Linked DNA regions of Homo sapiens: region 2 is linked to region 1. Evidence: fine-mapped expression QTL. Tissue or cell type: esophagus mucosa. Region 1 holds a variant in brackets; the other region holds the start of a gene. All regions are shown on one strand. Distances are between the middles of the regions.

Evidence for each region. PIP is the estimated chance that this variant, and not a neighbour inherited with it, causes the effect.
Region 2: it holds the start of FHIP2A, and the variant in region 1 is fine-mapped to the expression of FHIP2A in esophagus mucosa (GTEx, PIP 0.97).

The regions. Positions count from the first base shown.
Region 1 is chr10:114,675,188-114,677,946 of GRCh38, forward strand. It overlaps a transcript of ABLIM1 not described here. Among named protein-coding and RNA genes, the nearest start is that of ABLIM1, 18 kb to the left of the region's middle. The variant G/A (reference allele first, on the strand shown) is at 1,215.
Region 2 is chr10:114,820,428-114,823,186 of GRCh38, forward strand. FHIP2A (FHF complex subunit HOOK interacting protein 2A) reads left to right here and starts at 1,353. Exons shown (of 17, transcript NM_020940.4): 1 at 1,353-1,696. The coding sequence starts at 1,652. LOC124902508 (translation initiation factor IF-2-like) reads right to left here and starts at 2,521. Exons shown (of 2, transcript XM_047426127.1): 1 at 846-2,521. The coding sequence starts at 1,674. The coding sequence ends at 1,069. RefSeq lists silencers at 1,102-1,411, 1,422-1,771, 1,832-2,051 and an enhancer at 1,757-2,257.

The sequences.
Region 1 (2,759 bases):
TGATGACTCCCAAGCTGAAGCCTACATTACAATAAGATGACAAGTATGTACCAGCTGATATGGTTTGGCTGTGTCCCCATCCAAATCTCATCTTGAACTGTAGCTCCCACAAATCCCCACATGTTACTGGAGGGACCCAGTGGGAGGTAACTGAATCATGGGGGTGGGTCTTTTCCATGCTATTCTTGTGATAGTGAATAAGTCTCACAAGATCTGATGGTTTTATAAAGGGCAGTTCTCCTGAACATGGTCTCTTGCCTGCCTCCATGTAAGAGGTGACTTTGCTCCTCCTTCGCCTTCTGCCGTGATTGTGAGGCCTCCTCAGCCATGTGGAAATGTGAGTCCATTAAACCTCTTTCCTTTATAAATTACCCAGTCTCAGGTATGTCCTTATAGCAGTGTGAGAACAGACTAATACACCAGCCACTAGCCTTTGCGTGTATTTACATATACAACTCCTGTCATGCTTACCAGGACCTTATGCATTAGCTAAGATGTACTAGTTTTCTGGGGCTTCTATTACAAAGTATCGTAGACTGGGTGGCTTACACAACAGAAACTGTCTCACAGTTCTGGAGACTAGAAATTCAAAGTCAAAGAGTGCAGAGTCGGTTCCTTCTGAGGGCTGTGAGGGAGAATCTGTTCCATTCCTCTCTGCTACTCTCTGGTAGGTTCAGGCCTTTCTTGGTTTGGAGATGGTTCTCTTGTGTCTTTATGCCATTTTTACCTATGCATGTCCATCTCTGCATCCAAATTTCCCTTTTTTTAACGACATCTCATGTTAGGTTAAAGCCTACCCTCATGACCTCATCTTAACTTGATGGTCTGTTAAGGTGATCCAAATAAGGTCACAGTCACAGGTACTGGCGATTAGGACTTCAGCGTCCTTTGTGAGGACACAATTCAATGCATAACCAGAAGAAAGGAAATTACCTGACAGTGGGGCAAGACGACTTCTCAAGAAAAGAAGGAAACACAACTGGTATAACAACAAATGAAAAGAAAATGTGACTGGGCGCGATGGCTCACGCCTCTAATCACAGCACTTTGGGAGGCCGAGGTGGGTGAATCACGAGGTCAGTAGATTGAGAGCAGCCTGGCCAACATGGCAAAATACCGTCTCTACTAAAAATACAAAAATTAGCTGGGTGTGGTGGTGCGTGACTGTAATCCCAGCTACTCGGGAGGCTGAGGCAGGAGAATGGCTTGAACCC[G/A]GGAAGCGGAGATTGCAGTGAACCGAGATCGCGACACTGCACTCCAGCCTGGCGACAGAGCTAGACTCCATCTCAAAAAAGACTCTGTCTCAAAAAAACAAAAAAAAAGAAAATGTAAGAGAACAATCAGTAACCATGAGACTGGATTTATACGATTATGTTTCTTGGGGAAATGGTATTCCCAAGAAACTCGGGGGATTTCAGATTATTGTGTTCTCAAAACCCCTCAAGAATTCCTTTAAATTTTATTGCCAATCTCAGGCTTAATGACTAGGAATGGAGACTCCTAAGTCCTTTCACTGTGCGGTTTTATTTTAATCATATGTATATAAAATCAGTATGAAGCTTTTTTCTTTGAGATGGAGTCTCTGTCACCCAGGCTGGAGTGCAGTGGCATGATCTCGACTCACTGCAACGTCTACCTCCTGGGTTCAAGCGATTCTCCTGCCTCAGCCTCCTGAGTAGCTGGGAGTACAGGCGTGCACCAGCATGCCTGGCTAACTTTTGTATTTTTAGTACAGACGGGGTTTCTCCATGTTGGCCAGGCTGGTCCCAAACTCCTAACCTCAGGTGATCTGCCCTGCCTTGGCCTCCCAAAGTGCTGGGATTACAGGCATGAGCCACCGTGCCTGGCCAAGTTTATCTACCTCAAGAAAAATCCCTCTTACTTCTGAAAAGCCTGGTTCCCTCCCTCTGGGGGACCCTCCTGGAACCCCTGGCATGCTATGGTCCACTTGTTTGCCACTGCTGCTGGCCTATGAGCTCCACAAAGGGAAGACTCATAGCCACCTTTCTCATGACTGTATCCCCAGGTCCTAGCATGGTGACTGTCACATAGTAGGAGCTCAGTATATAATAGTGAAATGAATGAAATAAAACAATCCCCCTCACGCCCCTTCTTCTGTGTGTATTATGACATTGCTGTCAGGACAAAAAACCCAGAAATACCTGAGAAAAGTATAAAGCCTGAGAAAAATATTGATAGCATTAAGCCTCTTATCCAAGGAGCATTCTGCCTTCCCACCTTTCCTAAAGCTACACTCCAAACTCTTCTGTATCTGGGTTTAATCAGCAGAAATCTGGCTAACTGGCTAGGTATAGTGGCTCACGCCTGTAATCCCAGCCCTTTGGGAGGCCGAGGTGGGAGGATCACTTGAGGCCAGGTGTTTAAGACCATCCTGGCCAACATGGTAAAACCCCGTCTCTACCAAAAGATACAAAAAATGAGCCATGTGTGGTGGCATGCGCCTGTAATTCCACCTACTTGGGAGGCTGAAGCAGGAGAACCACTTGAACTTGGGAGGTGGAGGTTGCAGTGAGCCAAGATTGCGCCACTGCACTCCAGCCTGGGCAACAGCCAGACTCTGCCTCAAAAAAATAAAAATAAAAAAGAAATCATCTAACTACAGGTTCCCAACTACAAGCTGACTGTAATTGAGTAAACTGGTATTAAAGATTTCTAGCAAAAAACTGTTCATTTTGTAACAGTATTCCAGGCTTCATTCTATCTCCAAACATGGAGAGGAAACACATGAAAGTTGGTGA
Region 2 (2,759 bases), 150 kb after region 1:
TATGTATAAACGTATGTGTGTGTATACATGTATGTGTGTGTGTGTGTGTGTGTGTGTGTGTGTGTGTGTGTATTTTTTTTTTTTTTTTTGAGATGGAGTTTTGCTCTTGTTGTCCAGGCTGGAGCGCAATGGCGCAACCTTGGCTCACTGCAACTTCCGCCTCCCGAGTTCAAGGATTCTCCTGCCTCAGCCTCCCAAGTAGCTGGGATTACAAGCATGTAATCCCATTACACCACCACGTTCGGCTAATTTTTTTTTTTTTTTTTTTTTTGTATTTTTAATAGAGACGGAGTTTCACCATGTTGGCCAGGCTGGTCTCGAACTCCTGGCCTCAAGTGATCCTCCCGCCTTTGCCTCCCAGAGTGCTGAGATTACAGGCGTGAGCCACCGCGCCTGGGCCAGATACGTATTTTCAGCACTGGTTGTGCAAAACTCACTCCCCACCTCATCTTAAGAACTTAATGAACCTTTTGGTAAAACGCCAATACCAGCATAAAACAAATTTCTTCAGGATACAAATATTTTCATAATTTGTATTAACTCAACCTAAACTTTACCAGCCTGAACTGCTTCTTCAAGGCTTGACTAATACACTGTTAGGGAGTATTTTAAGCAGCCTCCACCCAAGTGCTTACCTTGTAGCTCTATTTATCTGCCTTAGGCATTTACTGGACTCCTTTCAGATTCTTTCCCTCGCTAATGTTTTCCGGTATCATCTGATAACTGAATAGAAAATGCTGTTCTGAATCACTACACCTCACTATCAACCATATCACAAATAAATTATGTTATATATTATATATAAATATTATAATGGGCTATTTAAACTAAGCCAGCCGTCTTACCATGTGCTCATGTGGGATTTCCTGTTTCAATGTTGAATAATAATATATTTTAAAGTTAGCAAAGCCATTTCACCTGCAGTCGTTGATTTCTTCAAAATCTGAGCATTTAAATCCATTGCCAATGTTTGCTTAAAGAACACTGTTTTCTTAACGAGTCTTCCAAATCGGTCCTTACAGGAAGAACCTCTGAATGCTATACGCATATATGGACGGCTGCGTGTCCCTACAAAGTCAGCCTGTTACTTCCACTGGAGAAACAAAACTCTTGAGAATCGCTGAGCTGTAAAAATGTTAGAAAGCCGGTGTCCCAGGCGCCCTGAGAAAGCCGGGAGAGGGCGGTGGCTGCCCACAGGCCGCCTCCAGCCCCGCGCGAGGCCGAGGCCTCAGCGCGCCCCCCGCCCCCGCGGCGCCTAGCGGCCCCGCCGCAGGGCAGGCCTGGCCGGGCCTCCCCGGGCTGCGGCGGCGCCCCCTGCAGGCCGCGGCGGGCAGAGCGGGGGGAAGGAACCCGAGCCGGGCTGCCACCGTGTCCCAACCGGTGCCGCCGCCGGAGCTTCTCCGGGCCCCGAGTCCTCGCCGAACGCCCTCCTCGCCGCCCGCCGCGTCCCGGCGCCCTCCGGAGCCGCCGAGCCGCCCGCGCACACCTGAAGCGGCCGGGCCAGGCCCTGCCTCGATCCTCAGCTCGTCCTCCCCGCCCCGCACCGGCCTTCACTCTGGAGCGGCCCCGGCAGCCGCAGCAGGGGCGGCGGCGGCGGATCGAGGAGCTCTCCAGGTCGTCCCGGGAGAGGCTGCTGCAGTCCCGGGACAGGATGTTCTCCAAGTTCACCTCCATCCTGCAGCACGCCGTGGAGGCGGTAAGGCCGCGGGCTGCGGGCGCACGGCAGGCCGGGGATGGCGGCGGCCTACGCTCCCCGGCGGCCTCGGGGACAAGCCGGGCGGCCTTGGCCCGGCCCTCGGCGGCCCTGTCCCCGGTTGGGGTGAGGCCCCAGGCGGGCGCCCTGGGCGGCCGCCGGGTCGTGGGGGCGCCCGGGGCCTCGGGCCTGGCTCTGCGGGGGTCCCGTCGGTCCCTGGCTGCCCCAGGCCGGCAGTCCCTGCCCTCCTCCAGGAGCCGGGGCGGGGGTGCCGGGGAGGACCTGGCCGCCCAACGCCGCTCGGTGGTCGCCTCATTCCTCTGATGGGGCCGGGGGTTCGGGGAGCACCTGGCGGGGTCGCAGAGAGCTCCCCCGGGCTCCCTTAACGTTAACCTTCTCCGGAAAAAAAGTGGTCAGCGTTGAGCAAGACAAAAGAAACGAGCAAGCACCGCTTGGGCTTGGTTCTGTTTTGTTTTGGTTTTCGGGGGTAGAGGTGGGAGAGGCATGGTCTCGCTGTGGGGCGTCCCTGGCGAGGGAGCCGCCGACCAGCCCCCGGGTTGCTGGCTTTTGCTTTCTTGGGCCTGGAGGCCGAACTCAGCTGAACCTTATGTATTGATCTGAAATAGGAGTTTGGAGGGTCCAGTCGAGTTTGCTTTCGACAGCTTCCAAGCTCACCGAGCCCAGAGACCATCTGTTTCCTTTCTTGTCTAGTTCTCTTCCTGGACACTCTTCGTTTATCCTGCAATTGTACTCTCCTTTGAGGGTTTTAGACACCAGCATAGAGACAGTATTCAAGTATCCTAGTAGACTAATAAGTGAAAAGAAACTAAAAAGAAAATGCCTTGTCACTGTTCTAGTAAGAATGCTAGTTGCTTCACTTGTTTACTTTATTCTGGGAGAACTGCCCAAATTGAAAAATGCATTCTGTGCAGAAACAATTACTTTGCTAATTTTTAACATGACATTCTCTTCCTATGTTCATATTATGTGATAGGACACTTTAAAATGTACACTTTAAAAATGTCAGATACAACAATGATTTTTTATGGGCAGGCAAAAATGGAGT